Linked DNA regions of Homo sapiens: region 2 is linked to region 1. The links come from fine-mapping of genetic effects on gene expression. A gene starts in region 1. The other region holds a variant in brackets. All regions are shown on one strand. Distances are between the middles of the regions.

Region 1 (15,998 bases):
TGTACCCCACAGCCAGGTCTGATGACCCAAATGACAACTGCTGCAGCTGGCATGGCTGTCAGGCTGTCAGGCACATACTGGGTCAGGCCATCACTGGGAGCTTCAGAAGAGTAAGTAATGCTGAGCCCTCAAAGCCTAACATCTCTAAGTAGGGCCCTCAGAAACCCAGCTGGCACAGCAGCAGCAACAGCAGCAGCAGTTTCGCCCTTGCTTCTATGAGATAAACAGTTTTTAGAGTGTGCGCAGAACCAGGGTGACATAAAGCTCTGTGAGGGTTTCACTAAGGTGTTGAAACAGTGCAGACTTGCAGGTGAATTAGCCTAGTCAAAAAGTTCAGATTGAAGAAATGAAAAATCAGCTCACCTCACCAAGATAATTTAGCATAAAAATATAGTTGATAATAAAAGTATAAAGTGCAAAACCATCAGTTAAACTTCTCTTTCATTAATAGCTTCCTTGCTTCAGAATTGCAATGGAAAAGAGCATTCTTACTGTATACAAGTTCACTGAGATGGTATAGAATTTCGGGCTGGGCAAATGTTTGTGTGGCCTCCTTAAACCTGCCATTGTGGTGTTACTGTTTGCGGAGTTAGTTGGAATAACGTGATTTTCTTTAAAAAAAAAAAAAAAATTGTAGAGAGGAGGCCTCACTATGTTGCCCAGGCTGGTCTCCAACTCCTGGGCTCAAGTGATCCTCCTGCCTCGGCCTTCCAAAGTGCTCACTTACATGTATGAGTCACTGCACCTGGTCGTGATTTTCTTAAAAAAAAAAAAAAAAAAAAAAAAAAAAGACACTCATCCCCAAGTTACATTACTTCTCAATGATATCTGTACTAGTAGCACTCTTCATCACATGGTCAATCATAGAATTTTCAATGTGGGCAGGGCACGGTGGCTCACGCCTGTAATCCCAGCACTTTGGGAGGCCAAGGTGGGCGGATCACCTGAAGTCAGGAGTTCAAAACCAGCCTGGCCAACATGGTGAAACCCCATCTCTACTAAAGATACAAAAATTAGCCAGGCATGGTGGTGCATGCCTGTAGTCCTAGCTACTTGGGAGGCTGAGGCAAGAGAATCGCTCAAACTTGGGAGGTGGAGGTTGCAGTGAGCCGAGATCGCACCACTGTACTCTAGACCGAGCAACAGAGTGAGACTCTGTCTCAAAAAAAAAAGAAAGAATTTTCAATGTGATGTATACATTTAGACCCAAATATTGACTCTTTAAATATCTACTTGTATTTTTCATCACTATACAAATTTTAGTTACTGCCAACAACCTCTTCCATCAGCAGATGAGGAGTAGGAATTGTATCATTTTTAGTTAGCAGATGATGATGATGACACAGACAAACAGATGCAAATACAGCAGCCCTCCAGGCAATCTTACATAACAGTATTGGATATTTTGGATTCATATTATCAATGGAATGATTTCTATTGTACTTGAACATATGAGAATTTTAACAAATTTTCTTGCTCAACCCCAACCCTGATATTCCCACTGGGACATTCTCCCATGGCTCCCTATTGAGAAAAGAAACTATTTTGCTTCGTCTAAGTAAATCCATGGTAACCTGATTCCCTCCTTCCCACTAACTAGGGCAAAACAAAGGCACCTGAGCTCTGTCTTGATTCATATTCACAGCCTGCATTCAGTGTGGGTCATGTTCTCACTAACCTATGTCTAGGTGATTACTAGAGTTTTCTCACTGGTCTCCTAGCATTGAGTCATTCTCCACTGCAATTTTACATACCACTTGCTGATTTGTTATATTTGTACTCCTTTTTCATAATAACCACCAGAGTATAATTTTACATTTACTATAATTATATGATTAAAATCTTTCTCTACCACTAGACTGTAAATTACATAAGAACAGGAACAATGTGTTTGCTCACTATGAATTTGCAGTGCCTAGCTCAGTACCTTAAGTATTAGACACTGGAGAAATATCTACTGAGTAAATGAATAGCATTTTAAAATATAGGGGTGTGGAGTTTTTTGCCAATTTATTACTTTGAGTCAAGACTCTACCTTACTCAAGTTTAAGAGGTTTCCCAGTGCCTCTCAGACCAAACCCAAAAGAGTCTTCTTGATAATGGTCCTCTGTTGCAACACCCACGTTCCCTTCACCTTTAAGGGGTACCACTGCTCCAGGAAGGTGCCGCTGTATCCAGTCTTCAGAACAAACTGTGGTAATTTCCACTCCTCTGCACTCGTTCATGTTCTATTCCAAACCATGGCTCTCTTCCTCCAAATCCTTAAGATGGTAACAGGTCATGACAGCTGTATTATTTTCAAGGGATTTAGGTTTCAGAAAAATCCTTTTAAAAATAGAACCTTCAGCTGGGTGTGGTGGCTCATGCCTATAATCCTAGCACTTTGGGAGGCTGAAGCGGGCGGATCACTTGAGGTCAGCTGTTCAAAACCAACCTGGCCAACATGGTGAAACCCCGTCTCTATTAAAAATACAAAAAAATTAGTCAGGCGTGGTGGTGCATGCCTGTAGTCCCAGCTACTCGGGAGGCTGAGGCAGGAGAATTGCTTGAACCCAGGATGCGGAGGTTGCAGTGAGCCGAGATTGCACCACTGTATTCCAGCCTGGGCGACACAGTGAGACTCTGTCTCAGAAAAAAAAAAAAAAAAAAAAAAGAACCTTCACCTCTAGATGGGGCAGGATCCATTTAGTGGCTTCTGAATATGGCAACATAAATGTAGCAGTTACACTCATTCCAGGAGTTAAAATTTGAGAATTTAAATCCATTTTACCTTATTAAGAATAAAATGCACCAGGTGGTCTCTTAATAAAGTAAAACTAATTTTAATTCATTTTGTTTGTCTTGATAAAGCAAAAAGACTATGAATAAAAATGTGATCACTTCTACAGCAATTAATTAATCTGTGAGACTTTTTTTTGCTGCCTGCTTTGTTCTAAACACTTAAAGCTTGTGAGCTCCTGTTGGGCTTCCAACAGTACATTATAATTTCAAAAGCGTTCTGTGATCAAATACATTGGGGAAACTGATGCAGGGTATTACAGGACACACAAGGAGACTGGTTTGTCTTGTTTTTATTTTTTTGAGACAGGGTCTTTCTCTGTCCCCCAGGATGGAGTGCAGTGACACAATCACAGCTCACTACAACCTCTGCCTCACAGGCTCAAGTGATCCTCCCACCTCAGCCTCCCAAATAACTGGGATGACAGACACGTGCCACAACATTTGGCTAATGTTTAAATTTTTTGTAGAGATGGGGTCTCTCTTATCGCCCAGGCTGGTTTTGAACTCCTGGACTCGAGCGATCCTCACACCTCAGCCTCCCCAAAATGCTGAGGTTACAGGTGTGAGCCATGGTGCCTGGCCTGGAAGAGTGGTTTTTTAAAGAAAAACATAAACAGTTGAATATCAGATCCTATAAATGTCAAGCATGAAAAAAAAAAGCAGTCAGTGTTAGTGACACTGTATTTATACAGCACTTGTAGAAGTGCTTTAAAGCACCTAAAAACAAAAATATATTCCCAAAGATAGAAATGTTATCAATATTATTTCTCTTTTCTAGACAGGAGAAAAATAACTTACTAAAAGTGACTACATAATCAATTTCTGATTTACATTCCCTGGTTTTTCCCCCAAAATAAGTTTAGAAGATTAAATTTCCCTCCCTAAGAACTGCGGTGTTATGGCAAGGGTATCATTAAGTACAATATGTAGTAAATTTAAGCCGTACAGGCATTAAAAACATATAAATCATGTATAAGCACATTCAAGAATTTAAATTATCTATAGTATGGAAGAGTAAAGAATTTGAAGTTGAAGGATCTAGGTTTTGATCGTGGCCACAATACTAATTACTAACTGAGATTTTCAACAAGTTACTTAACTGAGTTGCTGCGAAGAGCAAATGAGTTTACATATGCAAATCTTAAAAACATAACACGATGCCTGCCGTGAATTCATGTTATAAATTTACCAATATTGTGAGAACTGCATTGTAATGGGGAAACAGTAGGGGCATTAATAATAGGAGCTCTCACTTACTGGACATTTACTAAGGGCTTTTCATGCCTCTTCATCATTAACTCCTCACACCTGCCCAATGTGGTAAGTATTCTATTTGGTGGAACCATGGGACTTTCCATTTCTGTCGGTTAAAAATGGTCAATTATCACCGGACGTGGTGGCTCAGGCCTGTAATCCCAGCACTTTGGGAGGCCGAGGTGGGCGGATCATGAGGTCAGGAGATCGAGACCATCCTGGCTAACACTGTGAAACCCCGTCTCTACTAAAAATACAAAAAAAATTAGCCAGGCGTGGTGGCAGGCGCCTGTAGTCCCAGCTACTCTGGAGACTGAGGCAGGAGAATGGCATGAACCTGGGAGGTGGAGCTTGCAGTGAGCCAAGATCGCGCCACTGCACTCCAGCCTAGGCGACAGAGCAAGACTCTGTCTCAAAAAAAACAAACAAAAAAAAGGTCAATTATGAGCAATTTCATATGGTTCAAACTATCCTCTTGCTGGTTTAGAGAAACTGAAATACAGAGAGACTTGGGTAAGTAAGATAAAAGAGCCAGTGCCTGGTAAAAGTAAGGTTGGTAAGCCAATACCGGTTGATGTCAGCACCAACATTCTTGGCCAATATGTTATATAAGTTCCCAGCAAAGAGGCAAGTCTAATAGTTTAGGAGATGTAAACTCTAAGCTTTAATCAAGTATTGATTGCATGCTATCAGATAATATACAAACAATCAAGAAATGATGCCACAGCAAATTCAGCATATGAATCAAATGTACACATTAATTAAAGCAGCACAAGCGAAGATGGCTGAATAGGAACAGCTCAGGTCTGTAGCTCACAGCATGATCGACACCGAAGACAGGTGATTTCTGCATTTCCAACTGAGGTACCTGGTTCATCTCATTGGGACTGGTTGGACAGTGGGTGCAGCCCAAGGACGGCGAGCCAAAGCAGGGCGGGGTATCACCTCAACCAGGAAGCACAAGGGGTCAGTGGATTTTCCTTTCCTAGCCAAGGGAAGCTGTGACAGACTGTACTGGGAAAATTGGGACACTCCCATCTTAATGATGCACTTTTCCAATGGTCTTAGCAAATGGCACACCAGGAGATTATATCCCGCTCCTGGCTCAGCAGGTCCCACGCCCACAGAGCCTTGCTCACTGCTAGTGCCGCAGCTCCCAGATCTAACTGAGTGAAAGCCGGCAGCCTGGCTGCAGGGTGTTGCAGGGGCGGGGGGCGGTCTGCCATTGCTGAGGCTTGAGTAGGTAAACAAAGTGGCCTGGAAGCTCCAACTGGGTGGAGCCCACCACAGCTCAAGGAGGCCTGCCTGCCTCTGTAGACTCCACCTCTGGGAGCAAGGCATAGCTGAACAAAAGGCAGCAGAAACTTCTGCAGACTTAAACGTCCCTGTCTGACAGCTCTGAAGAGAACAGTGGTTCTCCCAACATGGTGTTTGAGCTCTGAGAATGGACGGACTGCCTCCTTAAGTGGGTCTGTGACCCCCATGTAGCCTAACTGGGAGACACCTCCCAGTGGGGACTGATTGACACCTCATACAGCCAGGCACCCCTCTGAGACGAAGCTTCCAGAGGAAGGATCAGGCAGCAATATTTGCTGTTCTGCAATATTTGCTTTTCTGCAGCCTCTGCTGGTGATACCCAGGCAAACAGGGTCTGCAGTGGACCTCCAGCAAACTCCAACAGACCTGCAGCTGAGGGACCTGACTCTTAGAAGGAAAACTAACGAACAGAAAGGGATAGCATCAATATCAACAAAAAGGACATCTATACCAAAACCCAATCTGTAGGTCGCCAGCATCAAAGACCAAAGGTAGATAAAACTACAAAGATGGGGAGAAACCAGAACAGAAAAGCTGAGAATTCTAAAAACCAGAGTGCCTCTTCTCCTCCAAAGGATTGCAGCTCCTCGCCAGCAATGGAACAAAGCTGGATGGAGAACAACTTTGATGAGTTGACAGAAATAGGCTTCAGAAGGTCGGTAATAACAAACTTCTCCGAGCTAAAGGAGGATGTTCAAACCCATTGCAAGGAAGCTAAAAACCTTAAAAAAAGATTAGATGAATGCCTAACTAGAATAAACAGTGTACAGAAGCACTTAAATGACTTGATGGAGCTGAAAACCATGGCACAAGAACTACCTGATGCATGCACAAGCTTCAGTAGCTGATTTGATCAACTGGAAGAAAGGGTATTAGTGATTGAAGATCAAATTAATGAAATGAAGCGAGAAGAGAAGTTTAGAGAAAAAAGAGTAAAAAGAAACTAACAAAGCCTCCAAGAAATATGGGACTATGTGAAAAGACCAAATCTACGTCTACGTCTGACTGGTGTACCTGAAAGTGACGGGGAGAATGGAACCAAGTTGGAAAACACTCTGCAGGATATTATCCAGGAGAACTTCCCCAACCTAGCAAGGCAGGCCAACATTCAAATTCAGGAAATACAGAGAACACCACAAAGATACTCCTCGAGAAGAGCAACCCCAAGACACATAATTGTTAGATTCACCAAGGTTGAAATGAAGGAAAAAATCTTAAGCGCAGCCAAGAGAGAAAGGTTGGGTTACCCACAAAGGGAAGCCCATCAGACTAACAACAGATCTCTTGGCAGAAACTCTACAAGCCAGAAGAGAGTGGGGGCCAATATTCAACATTCTCAAAAAAAAGAATTTTCAACCCAGAATTTCATATCCAGCCAAACTAAGCTTCATAAGTGAAGGAGAAATAAAATACTTTACAGACAAGCAAATGCTGAGAGATTCTGTCACCCCCAGGCCTACCTTACAAGAGCTCCTGAAGGAAGCACTAAACATGGAAAGGAACCATCAGTACCAGCCACTGCAAAAACATGCCAAATTGTAAAGACTATCGATGCTAGGAAGAAACTGCATCAACTAACGGGCAAAATAACCAGCTAACATCATAATGACAGGATCAAATTCACACATAACAATATTAACCTTAAATGTGAATGGGCTAAACGCCCCAATTAAAAGACAAAGACTGGCAAATTGGATAAAGAGTTAAGACCCATCAGTGTGCTGTAGTCAGGAAACCCATCTCATGCACAGACACACATAAGCTCAAAATAAAGGGATGGAGGAAGATCTACCAAGCAAATGGAAAGCAAAAAAAAGCAGGGGTTGCAATCCTAGTCTCTGATAAAACAGACTTTAAACCAACAAAGATCAAAAGAGACAAAGAAGGCCATTACATAGTGGTAAAGGGATCAATTCAACAAGAAGAGCTAACTATTCTAAATATATATGCACCCAATACAGGAGCGCCAATACAAAGAGACTTAGACTCCCACACAATAACAATGGGAGACTTTAACACCCGACTGTCAATATTGGATCAACGAGACAAAAAATTAACAAGGATATCCAGGAATTGAACTCAGCTCTGGACCAAGTGGACCTAATAGACATCTACAGGACTCTCCACCCCAAATCAACAGAATATACATTCTTCTCAGCACATCACACTTATTCTTAAACTGACGACGTAATTGGAAGTAAAACACTCCTCAGCAAATGTAAAAGAACAGAAATCACAACAAACTCTATCTCAGACCACAGTGCAATCAAATTAGAACTCAGGATTAAGAAACTCACTCAAAACTGCACAACTACATGGAAACTGAACAACCTGCTCCGAATGACTACTGGGTAAGTGAGGAAATGAAGGCAGAAATAAAGTTGTTCTTTGAAACCAATGAGAACAAAGACACAATGTACCAGAATCTCTGGGACACATTTAAAGCAGCGTGTAGAGGGAAATTTATAGCACTAAATGCCCACAAGAGAAAGCAGGAAAGATCTAAAATTGATGCCCTAACATCACAATTAAAAGAACTAGAAAAACAAGAGCAAACAAATTCAAAAGACAGCAGAAGACAAGAAATAACACAGATCAGAGCAGGACTGAAGGAGATAGAGACACAAAAAACTCTTCAAAAAGTCAATGAATCCAGGAGCCGGTTTTCTGAAAAGATCAACAAAATAGACTACTAGCAAGACTAATAAAGAAGAAAAGAGAGAAGAATAAAATAGATGCAATAAAAAATGATAAAGGGGATATCACCACTGATCCCACAGAAAATACAAACTACCATCAGAGAATACTATAAACACCTGAATAGACCAATAACAGGTTCTGAAATTGAGGCAATAATTAATAGCCTACCAACCAAAAAAAGTCCAGGACCAGACAGATTCACAGCCAAATTCTACCAGAGGTACAAAGAGGAGCTGGTACCATTCCTTCTGAAACTATTCCAATCAATAGAAAAAGAGGGAATCCTTCCTAACTCATTTTATGAAGCCAGCATCATCCTAATACCAAAGCCTGGCAAAGACACACACAAAAAAGAGAATTTTATACCAATATCCCTGATGAACATCAATGTGAAAATCCTCAATAAAATACTGGCAAACTGAATCCAGTAGCACATCAAAAAGCTTATCCACCACGATCAAGTTGGCTTCATCCCTGGGATGCAAGGCTGGTTCAACATACGCAAATCAATAAAAGTAATCCATCACATAAACAGAACGAAAGACAAAAACCACATGATTATCTCAATAGATGCAGAAAAGGCCTTTGACAAAATTCAACAGCCCTTCATGCTAAAAACTCTCAATAAACTCGGTATTCGTGGAATGTATCTCAAAATAATAAGAGCTATTTATGACAAACCCACAGCCAATATCATACTGAATGGGCAAAAACTGGAAGCATTCCCTTTGAAAACTGGCACAAGACAGGGATGCCCTCTCTCAACACTCCTATTCCACATAGTGTTGGAAGTTCTGGCCAGGGCAATCAGGCAAGAGAAAGAAATAAAGGGTATTCAGATAGGAAAAGAGGAAGTCAAATTGTCCCTGTTTGCAGATGACATGATTGTATATTTAGAAAACCCCATCATCTCAGCCCAAAATCTCCTTAAGCTGATAAGCAACTTCAGCAAAGTCTCAGGATACAAATTCAATGTGCAAAAATCACAAGCATTCCTCTACACCAATAACAGACAAACAGAGAGCCAAATCATGAGAGAACTGCCATTCACAATTGCTTTGAAAAGAATAAAATACCTAGGAATCCATCTTACAAGGGATGAGACGGACCTCTTCAAGGAGAACTACAAACCACTGCTCAACAAAATAAAAGAGGACACAAACAAACGGAAGAACATTCCATGCTCATGGATAGGAAGAAACAATAGTGTGAAAATGGCCATACTGCCCAAGGTAATTTATAGATTCAATGCCATCCCCATCAAGCTACCAATGACTTTCTTCACAGAATGGGAAAAAACTACTTTAAAGTTCATATGGAACCAAAAAAGAGCCTGCATTGCCAAGACAATCCTAAGCAAAAAGAACAAAGCTGGAGGCATCATGCTACCTGACTTCAAACCATACTACAAGGCTACAGTAACCAAAACAGCATGGTACAAAAGAGAGATACAGACCAATGGAACAGAATAGAGGCCTCAGAAATAACACCACACATCTACAACCATCTGATCTTTGACAAACCTGACAAAAACAAGAAATGGGGAAAGGATTCCCTATTTAATAAATGGTGCTGGGGAAATTGGCTAGCCATATGTAGAAAGCTGAAACTGGATCCCTTCCTTACACCTTATACAAAAATTAATTCAAGATGGATTAAAGACTTAAATGTTATACCTAAAACCATAAAAACCCTAGAAGAAAACCTAGGAAATACCACTCAGGACATAGGCATGGGCAAGGACTTCATGACTAAAACACCAAAAGCAATGGCAACAAAAGCCAAAATAGACAAATGGGATCTAATTAAACTAAAGAGCTTCTGCACAGCAAAAGAAACTACCATCAGAGTGAACAGGCAACCTACAGAATGGGAGAAAATTTTTGCAATCTACCCATCTGACAAAGGGCTAATATCCAGAATCTACAAAGAACTTAAATTTACAAGAAAAAATCAAACAACCCCATCAAAAAGTGGGCAAAGTATATGAACAGACACTTTTCAAAAGAAGACATTTATGCAGCCAACAGACACATGAAAAAATGCTTATCATCACTGGTCATCAGAGAAATGCAAATCAAAACCATAATGAGATACCATCTCACACCAGTTAGAATGGCAATCATTAAAAAGTCAGGAAACAACAGGTGCTGGAGAGGATGTGGAGAACTAGGAACACTTTTACACTGTCAGTGGTAGTGTAAACTAGTTCAACATTGTGGAAGACAGTGTGGTGACTCCTCAAGGGCCTAGAACTAGAAATACCATTTGACCTAGCGATCTCATTACTGGGTATATACCCAAAGGATTATAAATCATGCTACTATAAAGACACATGCACAGGTATGTTTATTTTGGCACTATTCACAATAGCAAAGACTTGGAACCAACCCAAATGTCCATCAATGATAGACTGGATTAAGAAAATGTGGCACATACACACCATGGAATACTATGCAGCCATCAAAAAGGATGAGTTCATGTCCTTTGTAGGGAATGGATGAAGCTGGAAACCATCATTCTGAGCAAATTGTCGCAAGGACAGAAAACCAAACGCTGCATGTTCTCACTCATAGGTGGGAATTGAACCATGAGAACACTTGGACACAGGGTGGGAAACATCACACACTGGGGCCTGTCATGGGGTGGGGGGTTGGCGGAGGGATAGCATTAGGAGAAATACCTAATGTAAATAACGAATTAATGGGTGCAGCAAACCAACATGGCACTTGTATACATATGTAACAAACCTGCACATTGTGCACATGTACCCTAGAACTTAAAGTATTATAAAACAAAAAGTATAGACAAATCTTATTCAATCTTGAGTTCAGAAGATAGTTATATCGGGTTTCATTATAGTATTCTTGCTATTTTTGTATATGTTGGAATTATTTACAACAAATGTTAATTGTATGTTACAGTGCATCAAAATGTGTTTAAGTAGTGGTGGTGCTTGTGGGTAGCTCTTTCACTATAATAAAAAATCAATATCCAAAAAAAAAAAAAAAAAGCAGCGCAAGCTCGTTCAATGAACTCTTACCATCATTCATTCAGCCAACAAATATTTACTCAACATCAGGCTCAATTTCTAACTTCCTAGAAAGATCTTTTTTCCCATCCCTCCCCTAATTCTTACCATTTTACCAACTGGTTCATCTCTCTTTTCAATAGCTATATTGTCCCCGCTTATAATGAGAATCTCATTTTGCCTTTAATAATCTGATTCACCTCAACGAATGTGAAAGATTGTTGAGGAAAGCTCAATACATGTTCAATTTGATGTTTATACCGAGTCCACCACCACACGTGAAATTTAATAGGGGTAAATAATCTCGACCACCTCTAAAGGGGTGGGTGATAAAAGCTTTCTGTGATCTCACCGGCTCAAGTGTCCTCTTTAATCTGAATTCATCTGGAGAATAACTGCCCTATGATGTTCTTATAAAATTACTTGTTTCCTGTGCTTAGAACTTGTCTCTGGGTAGAGTGTACGCGTCTCAAGGGCAAAGACTCAGTCTTGTTCGTTGACTTCACACACTGCCAGCAAATAATGTGAATCAATAGACCTTTAACGGATGAAGAAAAATTAGCAGTTTGGGAGAAGGTCCTTGAAGGTAGCAAAGCGAAAAGAAGAAGGGGGCGCTTGCGCATAAACAGCTGCTTCTGAGAACGAAAACTACGTAGCATTTCCGAGTCCCGGTGGCCGCTCAGGCTGCCCTTTAAAGAGACGTGTAGGAAGCCCACCCTGGGGCGGCCGTGGGCGGAGCCGCGACCTGAACGCCGGGAGACCTCACCAGGCGGAGGCGGTGTCTACCTCACCAGGCGGAGGCGGTGTCTGCCTCGCGCTGTCCTCTGACCGCCAGGGGGAGCCCTGCCGCGCGCTGCGCTCCGGGCCGCGCCGCCACGCTCTCTCGACCCGCGCGCCCGCCGCGCACCACCCGTCGCCACGCCCGCCGCAGGCCAAGGGCCAGTCACTTGCGGGCCGGCGTCCCGCAGCCCATTCGCGCCCCGCCCCTGCCCCGCCGCGGGATGAGTAACGGTTACGAAGCACTTTCTCGGCTACGATTTCTGCTTAGTCATTGTCTTCCAGGAAACAGCTCCCTCAGTTTGGAATCAGCTCTCCCGCTGCGGCCGCAGTAGCCGGAGCCGGAGCCGCAGCCACCGGTGCCTTCCTTTCCCGCCGCCGCCCAGCCGCCGTCCGGCCTCCCTCGGGCCCGAGCGCAGACCAGGCTCCAGCCGCGCGGCGCCGGCAGCCTCGCGCTCCCTCTCGGGTCTCTCTCGGGCCTCGGGCACCGCGTCCTGTGGGGCGGCCGCCTGCCTGCCCGCCCGCCCGCAGCCCCTTCGCTGCGCGGCCCCTGGGCGGCCGCTGCCATGGGCACCGACAGCCGCGCGGCCAAGGCGCTCCTGGCGCGGGCCCGCACCCTGCACCTGCAGACGGGGAACCTGCTGAACTGGGGCCGCCTGCGGAAGAAGTGCCCGTCCACGCACAGCGAGGAGGTGAGCGTGGCGACACTCGCCGCGGGGCTCCCGGGGCAGGCCTCGGGCGGGGCCGGGCGGTTCCGGCAAGGGAGAAGCGCCCGCGGGCGAGGGAGGGTGGCAGGGCCTCGCGCGCACCTGGGCTCCGCCCGCGGTCAGATGCTGAGGCCAGTGTCGACGCGACCTTGGGTCCAAACCCGCTGCCGAGGGCAACGCGTCTAAAAAACTTAGCCGGTGCAGCTGCGCACTGAGTGACACCTCTCTCGGTGCTTAAGGCTGGTAGCAAAACTCTCAAACATCCTGGGTCCCTCTTCCTGGCACGGAGGTCACAGAGGGCCAGGACGTCGCTCCGTCTCTCTCCACATCTCTCGCTTCCTTCCCCCACCCTGTCCAGGTAAAGGAATATTTTCGGAGATTATCCTTTGGTGCATTCAGATGAAGTAGTATTCATAGTACACCTAACTTTTAGAATGTTGACATTAGACTCTCTATTGCAGTGAGGCAAATGAGTAAGCACTCAATTTTGGCTTTGGAATACCCTAAATACCCTGACTTTAGTCATTACACATTTTATGCACTTATCTGTGCGTCTATGTATGCTTTATCAGTACACATTCTATGCATGTAACAATATCATTGTACATTCTATGCATGTAACAGAATATCACATGTGCCCCATAAATATGTACAAATATAATCTATCAATTCAAAAATTAAAGTTTTGTAAAAACTGGAAAATAAAAAGACTAGTCACTAGTTGGAGGTGACAGAGATTAATCTGGAATTACAAACTTGTTACCTATTTGTTGGCCATTTCTGAGCGGATAGTCATCCACTGCACATTGTGCATATTGGTGGTATGGGACAATTTTAGTATTTAAAAAATAACAAAATCTTTAGATTTAGGAGCTATATGACTTTGGAAAATTACTTTAAAGTTGGATAATAACACCTTCCTCATCAGGTTGTTGTGAGAATTAAGAGGTAATATATGAAAACGCTCACCATGCAGGCATCTATCTCCCTGTCATCTGGTTCCATCAGAAAGATAAATCTTAATTAAGAGAAAAACCTTCCTAAACTATGTGTGTTTAGAAAAACCTTCCTAAATCAGCTGTGTTCCTAAGTGGTTTCTGCTCTCTTCTATGAGATGTTGGTAACAGACCATGCAGCAGCACACGGCATCCCTCTGAGTTAAGTGCTGGACCTGTGCCCAGGCCTGTTGTTGGGGTCAGTGCCCATCAAGAGATGAGAACTCTTGCTTGTAACTTTAGTAGGAATCTGAGTCTGTACCATATTCTGTGTTCACGTTCCAGCTCAGTGTGTATGTTTTGTTTTATTTAAACCACCTACTTTGGCTGTTTCTCCCACAGATAAATATTTCTGTATTCGGTACATAGACTCTTAATTTCTTCCAGTACTGTTGGTGGTAGTTCAATACAGAATTTTGCACGTATATTGATATTATTGGGTGAAATTTTACCTATCTCACAATAGCATACTCTAAAGTAGTGACTCAAAAGAGTTTCTGACTGCAAACACAGTAAGAAGTACATTTTACTTTGCAATCCAGTTAATAGTTGTATAATCAGTATATCTGAAACAGGTTTCACAAAAAGATATTAGCCCTTATACCGTATATTCTGATTTTTTCTTTTATTTTAATTTTTAAAATGTTGATTTCTTGATGCTCAGAGTCACACACCACAGTTTGTAAAACATTGTTCAAAGGACTAATTCTGGTTTCTAGTGTTTTATTTAGGGTGCTTCATAACAGTAGGATAAAACTAAAGAAACTAGAAAACATTTCAGGAAAACTTGAAGGAATGGCATCATACTGTAGGGAAACTATGACTGCTTGGTAAGAGCAAAAGGGGAGGCACATTTTGTTTCTATGTAAAAGAACTTTGTAACACCCAGAGCTCCAAATTGGGATGTACTACTTGGAACAGTTCCGCTTCACTGAAGAAATTAAGTAAACTGAACAAATCACTTATTTTTGAGAAAATGTACGTGTTGGGTCAAGAGTTCAGTTAAATTTCTTACAAGGTCTCTTCTAGTTCTAATTTTTTAAAAAATGTTATGACCTCTGCCCAGATTTTTTGTCTCACTGGAATTTTATGAAATCAAATAGTTTGTAAGTGGACCATTATAGGACTGTTTTGCCCAGTTCTTTGTTGTAAGGGTGTTTGACCGGTTGAATCATGGTATTTAAAAAATTCTTATACAACTCCAGATCTAATGGTAGGCTAAGTTGTGGTGATGCTTATACTCAGTGATATTGGGTGTGTATTATAAGAATGAAGAGAGCGGAGAACAAACATAAACATTAATGTTAATGACAAACATTAACCCAAGTACAAGGTTAATGTTTAGTCAATATAGCAAACATGTAATTTACAAGATTAAAAATAATTAGGCTTGTGATAAAGTCAATGAATTTCCTACGTAATTGTAACATTAGACTGTTTTATTATTTGTCCTGACATTTTGCAGAATCCAAGATTAATTAAAGAAATGGTTTCAAGAAGAGGGTGAATACTATAAAAATAGACTTACCTTCCTGAATTGAGGAATTCATCAGGAAAGCCTCAAGTGTGCAAATGAGCCATCCTTCCAGAGGGAAATTTCTTAGAATTATCCCACGATTTGAGCCAAAGCACTTCCGATAGAATTTTTAACCTCTAGTTGGTTCTGCTCCTTCCATTTTTACTAATTTTTAAGAAAATACTATGACTTATAATTGTATCTGGAATGATTATCAACTCCTTTTCATCCACTGACTTAAATTTGATTATAAATATGCTTTACATAAAGATCTAGACCTTATAATTTGAATTCAAGTGAATTGTTGTGACTAGCATGTAAATTATTATTATGGATTGTAAATCTTAACATAGGTAGTTCTGTGCCCTTAAATTGATAAACCAGTTATCTCTTGTAATCATGTGTACTAAGATATACGTAGTAAAGTGATTGTATCAGTTTTTATCATAAGCAGTCATAGTTCAGATAGTTCAGAAGTTTAGTGTCTGCTGTTTCTATTAGGAAAGTGCTTTTGCAATTCAGGGGCTTGCCTCTAGTTACTCATTTGTGTTTTCATTGATTGCCCACAGAAGAATGCAAAACACTGTGTCCTTGGTTATCTAATAAGGCAGTGATTTCAGATTGCCAGGTTTGGCCCATTAGTGGTCATAAATCAGTTCAGTGAGTCATGGACCAGTATATTTTTTCTAATTAATATATTGGAAGCCATTAGAGTGCCTGGCATGTTGTGAGCATAAATACCGCTTTATGACTGTTTTGTTCCATTATATGTATATAGGTCTTTGCTCACTATGTGAATGTATGTCTTACTTTGGACTACTATCAAATAAGTCTGAAATACACTTTAATAAAGTATGTTTGAATTAATTTACAACATACTATAATATTTGTATAAATTTTTTTTTGTTTATCTAAGAAAA
Region 2 (10,604 bases), 120 kb before region 1:
GCGGAATGAAGAGGCTCAGGACCTATCAGGTGCTCAGAGCTGGATGGAGACAGGGCCACAGATGGCAAATCCATGGCTCCCCAGTGCACCCAGGAGGCAGGGGAGGCTTGGAGCAGGAGAGCTTCTAAGGGTGGGAACACCTCTGTGAAGTTACACCAAAAATCTAAGAGCAGCCCCCAGATCATTTTCCCTGCAGAGCACTGTCTCACAGCAGCCTGGGTTTTATTTGTCCTGAGATTGATGTGCTTGAACAGTCTTCAAAGGGTCTGATCCGAGGAGGTGAGGGTTGCCCTTTCTGCATTTACAAAGCCTGAACAGTATTAGGGCTTTGAACGCTATAAACATCTAAGAGGCAGCACCAAACCACTGCTGGGTTAAGGTACCCCCACAATGCCACTTGCCCTGGGCCTTTCTCTTCCTCACCCTCCACAGCCCCTTAACTCTCCCGTCCTTCTTGTGCCTCCAGGTGGCATGCAGAGAAAGCTGTCGGTTGCCATTGCCTTTGTGGGAGATGCCAAGGTGGTGATTCTGGACGAACCCACCTCTGGGGTGGACCCTTACTCGAGACGCTCAATCTGGGATCTGCTCCTGAAGTATCGCTCAGGTAACAGCTGCTGCTCAGTCTCCTGGGCTGGGCTCTCACTGCAGCCCTAGCTGTGGTCCCCACTCTCTCACCTGCCATTTTGTAGCTGAGTACAGGAACCACAATGACTACACTCAGAAGGGGGTTTATCAGTGACTTGGTGAATCTAAGTTCCAGCTAAAGCCTCCTGAGGTTTTTACAAATATAAACAGAGAATCACTGATGATGCAACCTACTTCCCAAAATATTTTAGAAAATTCTCTTGACCTGCAGCCCTTCTGTCTGGAATAATGGATGCTACTCTAGGTGAATGTCTTCTCTGACCATGGGGACCCAGGTCACCTGCAAACATACCTAGAAGCTCCATAGCTGTCAGATGACCACTCAGGACCAGTGTGAGGGTGACCTGCTGGGCATTCAGTGCTCCAGAGGGTGGCCACAGATGGAAGTGGCTCCTCTGTCATGGCACCTCTCAGACAAGGGGCTCAGATCAGAAGAGACAGCAAGCAGAGCTGAGTGCCCATAGAGGTAACAGCACGGTTCAACCCCGTGGTCAAGCCAGAGCTTTCCCCCTTGCTCTACTCACACAGCGTTGCCCCGTGCCTTTCTCTGAGGGTTTGTCATCCTGAAATCCTCATTGCTATTTTCTTTCTTTCTTTTCTTTTTTTTTTTTTTTTTTTTTTGAGACAGAATCTCGCTCTGTCGCGCAGGCTGGAGTGCAGTGGCGCAATCTCCACTCACTGCAAGCTCCGCCTCCTGGGTTCGAGCCATTCTCCTGCCTCAGCCTCCTGAGTAGCTGGGACTACAGGTGCCCGCCACCACGCCTAGCTAATTGTTTTTGTATTTTTAGTAGAGACGGGGTTTCACCGTGTTAGCCAGGATGGTCTCGATCTCCCGACCTCAGGTGATCCTCCCGCCTTGTCCTCCCAAAGTGCTGGGATTACAGGCATGAGCCACCGTGCCCGGCCTGCTGTTTTCTGTTAATGACATCTCCAGTTAGTGAGAGTATGCACGTGTGTGTTCTTTATGAAGAGTATAAATCCAGAGCTTAATGATCCAGAAAATGTACATATGAAACTCCCTAGATGCTGACCATAATACATGAGCCCCTAATATAGAGATTTATTTGAATCAGATCCTATGCTGGATACAGAGACACTGTGTGTGGCAATGCTTTACAGTATGTAGGAAGCTATGAAATGTTAGTTATTATTGTCCTAATATGCTGGAATTTGCTGCTGAATTAGTTCCCTTGGGTTTTTTTTTTTAGTTAACTCCTGATTTTTGCAACTATATAGCCAGGAAATTGCTGTACACCCTTTACCAACAATGCCCAACCCAGGGCAGGCCTGGTGATTGCCCTGGCCCCTACCTTGCAGGCAGAACCATCATCATGTCCACTCACCACATGGACGAGGCCGACCTCCTTGGGGACCGCATTGCCATCATTGCCCAGGGAAGGCTCTACTGCTCAGGCACCCCACTCTTCCTGAAGAACTGCTTTGGCACAGGCTTGTACTTAACCTTGGTGCGCAAGATGAAAAACATCCAGAGCCAAAGGAAAGGCAGTGAGGTAGGTGTCTGCCCAGGGAAGGACCCTGGCCTGGGTGAGAAGGAGCACACAGCACGGGGCTGCCACTCCAGACATGGCTACTCACACAGGCTCTCGCCACCAGAATCAGTGTCTTTGTTCTGGGACCATTTGCAGAAGATTTCGATGAACACATTCTGAAGCCTCCTCCTACAGAGATGCTTTAGCCAAAATGAAACAACTAGCTTTAAATGGTCTGCAAGTATTACATGCCAGATTACACACCAGTTTGGTGCGGTTTGGTGCAACATAGAAGTGAGTGTCTTATTCTGTAAGGTTAGGCTGTTTTAAGAGCAATTGGTTGAGCTTCATTTCAACATTAATATTCCCTAATTAAACCTGAATTTCAGTGGTAAGTGAAAACTAAGAAGAGGCCTCCTTGGGTGCTATAACATAAAAATGATGAAGGCAAAAAGTACCAACCAGCAGAGACCACTTCAGCACATCAGGAGACCCAGTTTTATGTCTGTGCTGCGAAGTGAACAAACTGTGTCATCCTAGGCAAATTATTTAATTCCTCCTTTTTTTTAGTATTTTTTTCTTCTTCACATGGAACATGAAGCTAATGACCTCTGCTTCTATTTCTTAGGGATGTGAAGATAAGTGAGATAAAGTATTATAAATGTGCTCTGGGCTTCTTAAGAACAGGCATTGCTCACATTCAAATGGTCATGATTATGATATGGCAGCATTATTTATGCCTCTGGTTTAAGTGTCTGGCTGCCGCTGGGGTTTCCTATGTCCATCCACGGGGAGGGAGGCACAGAATGTCTCCCACAGGCAGAACCTACAGCTGCCACATAATTGATGACAAGCCAAAGGGACCCTTGGAGGTTCTGCTCCTCTCTGTGTGTGACTCACACACTCTCTAGGATAAAATCAAGCGACTACACCCTCAAAATGCTCAGATGAATTAACAGATTAAACAGTGAAGAAAAAAATGTGTTGACTACACTTGGCAGTGAGAAATAAATAAAGCGGGCGGTGACAGCAGCTGGCATCAGGGAGAGGCTGTCATGGAAGGGATGTGCATCTTGTCAGTCATCCCATCCATCTGTTGCAGGGGACCTGCAGCTGCTCGTCTAAGGGTTTCTCCACCACGTGTCCAGCCCACGTCGATGACCTAACTCCAGAACAAGTCCTGGATGGTAAGGACTGGACGGGCCATACTTGGGTTCCGTCTGGCAGCCATCTCCCAGTATTGCTGGGTGTGTCCTGTTGTGATGCATTTTAATGGGAGCAAAGAGAACACTGGGTACTTCTGCAGGTCACACAGTTGTTCTTTTGCTTTGAGCTTCTTTCTCCTCTTCCTTCTTCCTTCATTCCCAAAGGGATTTTAAAAGTCATGCACCTAAAGGCCCTCTCCCTTTAATGAGGAATACACTCTGTGCTCTTACCCTTAGTAAGCCATCATTCCTGGGGTCCCCCTGCCCTGGCTCCAGGCCACATTCCTTAGTGTCTGGGGAGAGCTTCTTCTACATGTGTGCCGTGGCGCCCTCTAGTGGAAGCATGGTGATGCACGGCTCTTCCAGTGAATTCGTGGAGTCAGAGATTGCACATGTGGATGGCAAGTCTGGAAATAGCATACACCCCTGTTATACTCCTGATTCTCCCCTCAGCTTCCCAATTTCCCAGTGATTCTCCCTTTAATTAGGATGCACTGAAGCTCTCAGGGGTGCCCCCATCTCCAAGGAGCTGCAGTGGAGAGGCTATCCCCTCTCTATGTGAGAGAATGTGTGAGAAGCGTATTCCCACACAGGAGCAAAACTAAACTTACGTACTGATGCAGGTTAATGAATGGGGAAAGTATCTGCTTATCAAAGAAAAGGCATATTTTTCTATTTAGCACAAACTTTTTCAAATGTTAAGAATTTACTAACTGAAATCTGGTGAAGCAAGAGAACCGGGCAATATTTGCGTTGTCTGATCATTACAACTGGAGGGAACATGCTCAGAGAGGCATCATCACTGTTCATGCACCTGCCCTCTCTTTACACTGAGAGACCCTGTGATGAACAGAAAACATCTTTTTAGGATGACATCTCTGGGTCTTTCTCCTAGCCTGCCTTGCTGTGGGTACCTATCTCCCTGCTCTCTGAACCTTGGTCAAGAAGTTTATATTTGTTTTAAATTGATACTAATATGTTAAGTTACTGTGATTTGCCAAAATCAGATTGGAAACAGGGCCTGCATGGCTGAATGATTCTTTTTTTTAAATTACTTTATTTCTAAATAAAGGTTTTCTTTGTATAGAATCGGGATGCTGTGAATGGTGGGAAATGCACTAAATAGTTATGCCCCAAATAAGAAAGGGAAAATCATTTGAATCCCCAGTTAGCTCCTTGAAAGTCTTTTCACTTAAACACACCCACATACCACACACACACTCACAGACCTCCCTCCCAGATGCCCAAAGCCCTGCTGACCTACAGAGCTACTTCTGGAAAGGCTGACACATGCCTAAGACACAATTCCTGGGAATCCAGCAGCTTTGGGTTCAATTTCCTTCCTAAAAGAACAATGAATATGACCCCTGGAGAGCTATTAGGGCAGAGCTGCTTCCTTAACGTAAAGGACTCTCCAGCCTCCGTATGAAGTCATCTCAGAGCTAAAGACAATCAAGTCCAACTTGCAGATTTGACATAAAGCAAGACTTCCAATCCGGCTAGGCAGAAGGATTTTGGTTGAAAACCATGAAATCCCTTCATATGGATCATTTTTTAAACAACAAAAAAAGAAAAGAACCTACTGGGTGTCCACAACTCTGAGAGCTGCTTTCTGAAGAGTCATGTTTTGAGTCCTGGAATCCCTCTCCCTTTGACCTGCCTCTCAAGACAATGTGCGAGAGAACTCTCTCTTCAAGTGCATGCAAGTGAGGTTTTCACAGTTAGATTTTTAATTTTAAAGTAATACACATTTGTACATAAAATTCAATTCTGACTGTATACATGTGTCAGATAAACAGTTGATACCTGACACTTGTTCACAGTCTATGATACGCACCGCATATCCTACCCTCTCCCCCAGCCTCTCTCCATGGCTTCTCAACCCCCCCTCTGCATTTCCTGTGACCTGAGGATTCAGTTTTGTTTGTGGAGGCAGGTGCAATCCCAAGAGAAACTGTGCAATCTTCTGAGAAGTTAGAGTAGGCATGTGTGTGTGATTTAGGGAAGGTACTTCTCACTCAGCTTGGTCACCGGTTCCAGGTTTGTGTCTTGGGCAAGTCCCCCATAGCTGGTGACAGACCAGAAAAATGAAAACAACTTTGACTTAGCCCTCAAGTTTTCAGTGAATGAGAATGAAAAACAACCATGAGTAAGAGATTTCTTACCGAGATGATGTAAAGGATAATAATAGCAGCCAGCACTCACCTATGTGCCAGGTATTTCTCTAACTGCTTTGTGTAGTTTGACTCATCCAGTCCTCAAAAACAACAATGAAGTGGATACCAGTATTTTCCCCTTTTCACAGATGAGGAAAGTCTAATGTGACCCACCCAACATAACATAGTTTGAGGGGACAGAGCATTTCGTTGAACAGAGGAGGAACTGGCACAGGAAAGTTGCATGACCCCCCCACCAAC[C/T]TCCGCCCCCAGGTTGCACAGCTAGCTAGTCGGGAGGACTTTGCTTCCGTTTCCCTCTGCCTCTCAATGATGATCTCAGGGCCAACTAAGCTAAAAGCAGACTTGATGGAGCATCAGTCCTCTGAAAGAGTCACTGCCGAGATACAAAATACCTCTTCTTCAAAGGGGAAGTGGAGAGAAGTAGGAAATCTGGGTAACCTCACAGTCTTCCAGTTTCTGGAAAACAGAGCTGGCATCAGTCTTTTTTCTTGTCCTAGGGGATGTAAATGAGCTGATGGATGTAGTTCTCCACCATGTTCCAGAGGCAAAGCTGGTGGAGTGCATTGGTCAAGAACTTATCTTCCTTCTTCCAAATAAGAACTTCAAGCACAGAGCATATGCCAGCCTTTTCAGAGAGCTGGAGGAGACGCTGGCTGACCTTGGTCTCAGCAGTTTTGGAATTTCTGACACTCCCCTGGAAGAGGTAAAGTAGAGATTCCAGCTGGTTTCTGTCAAGTGCCAGAAGTGGCGGTTCTTTGAAAAAGTCTAACATTAGAGCAAAGTTTTGTAAAAGCAAAAAGCCATCGTTCCCCACCCAAGCATAGCAACTATCTTTATTTTTGGCATAGTTCCCCCATCTCTGCATGCATACAAATTTTATGTACTTGTGGTTACTGTGTGCTTACGTTTTTGTATTTATAGAAGATGATGTTCTCAGATAGAGTCGTAATGGATTTTCTTCCCATTATGAAGCAATACCCAACAAAACAGAGCTTGGGTTAGATTTTTCTGAGAATAAGAATGACTAAACAAAATTCTCTCTTTTTTTCTTCTTGACAGATTTTTCTGAAGGTCACGGAGGATTCTGATTCAGGACCTCTGTTTGCGGGTATGGTGCTGGAGCCAGTGGCTTGTTCCCTTCCTTGCCTCCCTCCCAAGTTCCATCTCGAAAGTCTAAGGGGCTGGGCACAGTGGCTCATGCCTGTAATCCCAGCAATTTGGGAGGCCAAGGCAGATGGACCACCTGAGTTCGAGACCAGCCTGGCCAACATGGTGAAACCCCATCTGTACTAAAAATACAAAAATTAGCTAGGTGTGGTGGCGCGCACCTGTAATTCCAGCTACTCGGGAGGCTGAGGCAGGAGAATCACTTGAACCTGGGAGGCAGAGGTTGCAGTGAGCAGAGATTGTGCCACTGCACTGCAGCCTGAGCGACAAGAGCAAAATCCATCTCAAAAAAAAAAAAAAGTCTAAGGAAAAAGTCATGAAACAACAAAGCAGGCAAATACTCCTCCATAGTATCTGACTCCCCAGTAGTAGGCATTTTGCATCCTAGATGGCTTTGAGTGACAAAGGAATAACAGACTGAGTTAGGTCTAGATGGGGACACTTTGGATGAATGAGGATTCTTACGGAGGTCAGGTTGGTAGCTTCATCCCTCAGCTCCTCATGCTGTATCCCCAGTCTCTCGGCCTGCCATGTCATCATCCTCATCTCCTCCTGTCATCTCCACCAGGCCTCTGATCCATCTCTGTCTGCATGAGTGACAGCTGGCAGAGTCCTTAATGTTTATCAAATACAACTCAGACGTCAGTCTCCTGGCCCCTTTGAGATCAACATAAAATCATTTTGAACCCTTATTTAGTGGTCTATGGGCTTTGAAAACATGGGGACCAAAATTCCTGTGGATTCTAGAAGTCTCTCTTCTACATGTGTCAGCCTGGGCACCAACTAGCTCCTTCCATGAACTTTTATCAAACCCACAGCCACACAAAGCATGTGTGAGTGTAGCAGAGTTTACAGCAGAGGGTGGAGGGTGGGGAGATAGATGTGTGGAAGGGTTACCTGCCACACAAACAGAAACCACTTCTGATAGAACACGAGGTGTCCACCCACACTGTAAAATCCTCTCCTGGTACAGGCAAAGCTTTGCAGCGATTCTCCTTTGCTGCCCCTGGGCTCCTAACACCTCCTAAACCACCAGTTACCTCCTTCTTTCCAGTGTGGCATATTTCAGTGTTTTCCTGTTGGAGTGTTTCCTTTCTATGTGGATTCTGGAATCAGCTCTTAAGATAACTTGGTTTTCATCTTTCTTCATAATGATCCCAAACATCTATCTACTATGCCTAGAACTACCAATGGACACATATACCAGCCCAGATATGCTTCAGCCCATCCCAGTACATCGCATGGTGACCAAAAGATGTAGTCGTCCTGGCACAGTGGGTGTGGGGCAGGAAGCAGTCCTCTCCAGGGGACAGCAGCAATTCACCACAGAACCCAAGTTTCTTTCAAGCTCTGCTGACACAGAAATTGAATAATCTCAGCTCACCCAATGTCAAAGACTCATATTAACCAAGACCAGAATGAAAATATGCTAATTTATATCAGAAGCTTTGCTGGATTCAAGAGTTAGGGCCTTTTACCTGTGCAGAATATTCCTTCTTGATAAATAGGCCCTCTCAGGAGAATAAATTACACATCAGAGGACTGTTTAGTCAGCATAGGCATAGAACAGGATGTTCCAAAGATACAGTCAAGGGGAGTGGGTAAGAGTGTAGCCTCTGGAGTGAGGCCGACCAAATATCAAACCTGAGCTTCATAATTTGCAAACTAACTGGCTTTGGGTAAGTACATAGCCTCTTTGTACCTGTTTCCCCATCTGCAAAATGGAGATAATAATAGCATCTACCTGTAGCATTGTTGAGAGAATTAAGTGAGTTAATGCTTGCCGACTTATAACACAGTATACGATCACTGATTAAGACTTAGCAACTCTAAACTAAATGTTTACAAACCATCTCTTACCTCAAAGCACTTAACATCCATTGTCTTATTTGATTATCACTGTAATCTTATGAAGCAGGCAGGGCAGGGGTCTGCCCCATCTGGGGGGAACTGAGCTCACAGAGGTTGGAGGGTTTGCCTAAAGTCACCCAGGCCACTGGGTCTCACTCTCTGGTCTTAGCTCTGTAATCTAGGATGCTCAATGCCACACTCTCAGCCACTTTTCAGATGGCTAAGTACATTTGTTTTGAGTTAGCTCAGTCTCAGAGGATGACATTTTCTGATCTTGTCTCCAGTGTTTAAATGAACCTGTAGCTGTGCATTGGGGTCACACAATGCGTGGCATGGAGAGGGTCTGTGGCTGACTGCCACGGTTACTACGTGAAACCATCATTACAGCAGTTACTACTGTTACTGCCTGAGAACATCATTACAAGACTGAACGAAGGGATCAACATGGAAATGATAACAAAAAAACCAAAGTAACTGTTTTAAGGAAAGGCTAGCATCGGGAAGAAGAAGAGAGAAGAAGAGAAGAAGAAAAGGGCTCCCTGCTTCTAATGAGTAAAGGCAGCTCCCTAAGCTTCTGCAGCCCTTCATTATTTATTGGGTAACAGGAGGAAGGAGCAGGAGGTAATGATTGGGTCAGCTGCTTAAATGATCACGGGTTCATGTTGTTACTGACAGATTTCAATTATGCCTAATCATAAGAAACATTTGTGCAGCCTCCAACAAGGGTCAATGCCACTTCTGAAGGGGTGACTCATAGTCAGTAACTAGAAAGCAGCAGATAGCTAGGGACAAACTGGCGATTCTGAATAGGCCTGGAACCCTTAGCTCTGGCCAGGTCAGTGGGCTCCAGTCAGGATGGAGCCTTCAGGGAGAGATCAAAGCTCAGAGGTTTGAGATGATATCAGCCAGCAAAGAGGAGGGGCAGTAGGGATCCTCCCAGAGGGAGGGCCAGCCATAGAAGACATCAAATCTGAGCCCGGATCAGGAGAAGGAGCCTGCAGAACTGGGGCTCTGGCACCGAGAACCTGCAGAACTTCGCCCCTCTGAGTGCAGGTGCCAGGGCTGGGGCTGCCACCCAGCCTTCGCATCCCAGGCCTGGCACGTCATAGGTAAATGTAGTTGAAAGGATGACTGAGCTGATCCAATTCCCTTTACAACTGTCCTTGTCCTGGGGGACTTGAGGAGGGTTAAGAAAGCAGCTGGGGACCAACCAACAGTCCTCTAGGCTCTCCATGTCCAGCAATAGTTGTTCAGCAAATGAGCATTAATCAGTGACTATAAACTGTAGCTTCAACATAACCGACAACTTGCAATGGTTTCTAGAGCATGCTCCCATGTGTTATCTCATTTAAATTTCCAAACCAATCCTGTGAAATGTTCTTTTTTTTTTTCTTTTTTTTTTTTTTGAGATAGAGTTTTGCTCTGTCACCCAGGCTGGAATACAGCGGCTCGATCATAGCTCACTGCAGCCTTGACCTCCTGGGCCCAAGGGGTCCTCCCACCTCAGCCTCCCAAGTAGCTGGGACTACAGGCACACGCCACCGTGCCTGGCTAATTTCTTTTCTAGTTGTTTGTAGAGACAGGGTCTCCCTATGTTGTACAGGCTGATCTGAAACTCCTGGGGTCAATCAATCCTCCTGGCTTGGCCTCCCAAAGTGCTGGGATTACAGGCATGAGCCACCATGCCTTCATTTTACAGATAAGAAGTCTGAGAAAACTCAGATTTAGGCAGATTGAGTCACTTCCCCAAATTTATGTATCTTGTAAGAATCCATATTCAAACCTCAGTCCCCTAACTCTTAGTTCATTACTTTTTCTACCACTTCTCAGTATCCTCTAAGAATTCAGAAAGAACCACATCGACTCTGATTTTTCATTTGTTTAAGTACACAGGTAATAGGTGAATGTATTTTGTTGTTTAAAAATTCATATAATACACAAAAGGCTAAAGTCTCGCTTCCCACTTCCTCTCCCCTTTCTACCCAACTCTGCCTCCCCAGGGAGAGCTTCTGCTGACAGTCGGTGGACATTCTTTCAGAGTTTTACAATTATGTGTGTGTGTGTACATA

Evidence for each region. PIP is the estimated chance that this variant, and not a neighbour inherited with it, causes the effect.
Region 2: its variant is fine-mapped to the expression of GCLM in whole blood (TOPMed, PIP above 0.99).

Annotation. Positions count from the first base shown.
Region 1 is chr1:93,905,592-93,921,589 of GRCh38, reverse strand. It overlaps GCLM (glutamate-cysteine ligase modifier subunit), which reads left to right and starts at 12,160. Exons shown (of 7, transcript NM_002061.4): 1 at 12,160-12,552. The coding sequence starts at 12,427. It overlaps LOC124904221 (a long non-coding RNA gene), which reads right to left and starts at 11,998. Exons shown (of 2, transcript XR_007066230.1): 1 at 11,436-11,998; 2 at 1,992-2,261. It also overlaps the pseudogene CHCHD2P5. RefSeq lists an enhancer at 11,637-11,796 and silencers at 11,837-12,076, 12,287-12,646, 12,697-12,746.
Region 2 is chr1:94,032,761-94,043,364 of GRCh38, reverse strand. It overlaps ABCA4 (ATP binding cassette subfamily A member 4), which reads left to right. Exons shown (of 50, transcript NM_000350.3): 21 at 1-29; 22 at 467-604; 23 at 1,963-2,156; 24 at 3,238-3,322; 25 at 6,015-6,220; 26 at 6,577-6,625. Among named protein-coding and RNA genes, the nearest start is that of ABCA4, 83 kb to the left of the region's middle. RefSeq lists an enhancer at 5,534-6,733. The variant C/T (reference allele first, on the strand shown) is at 5,758.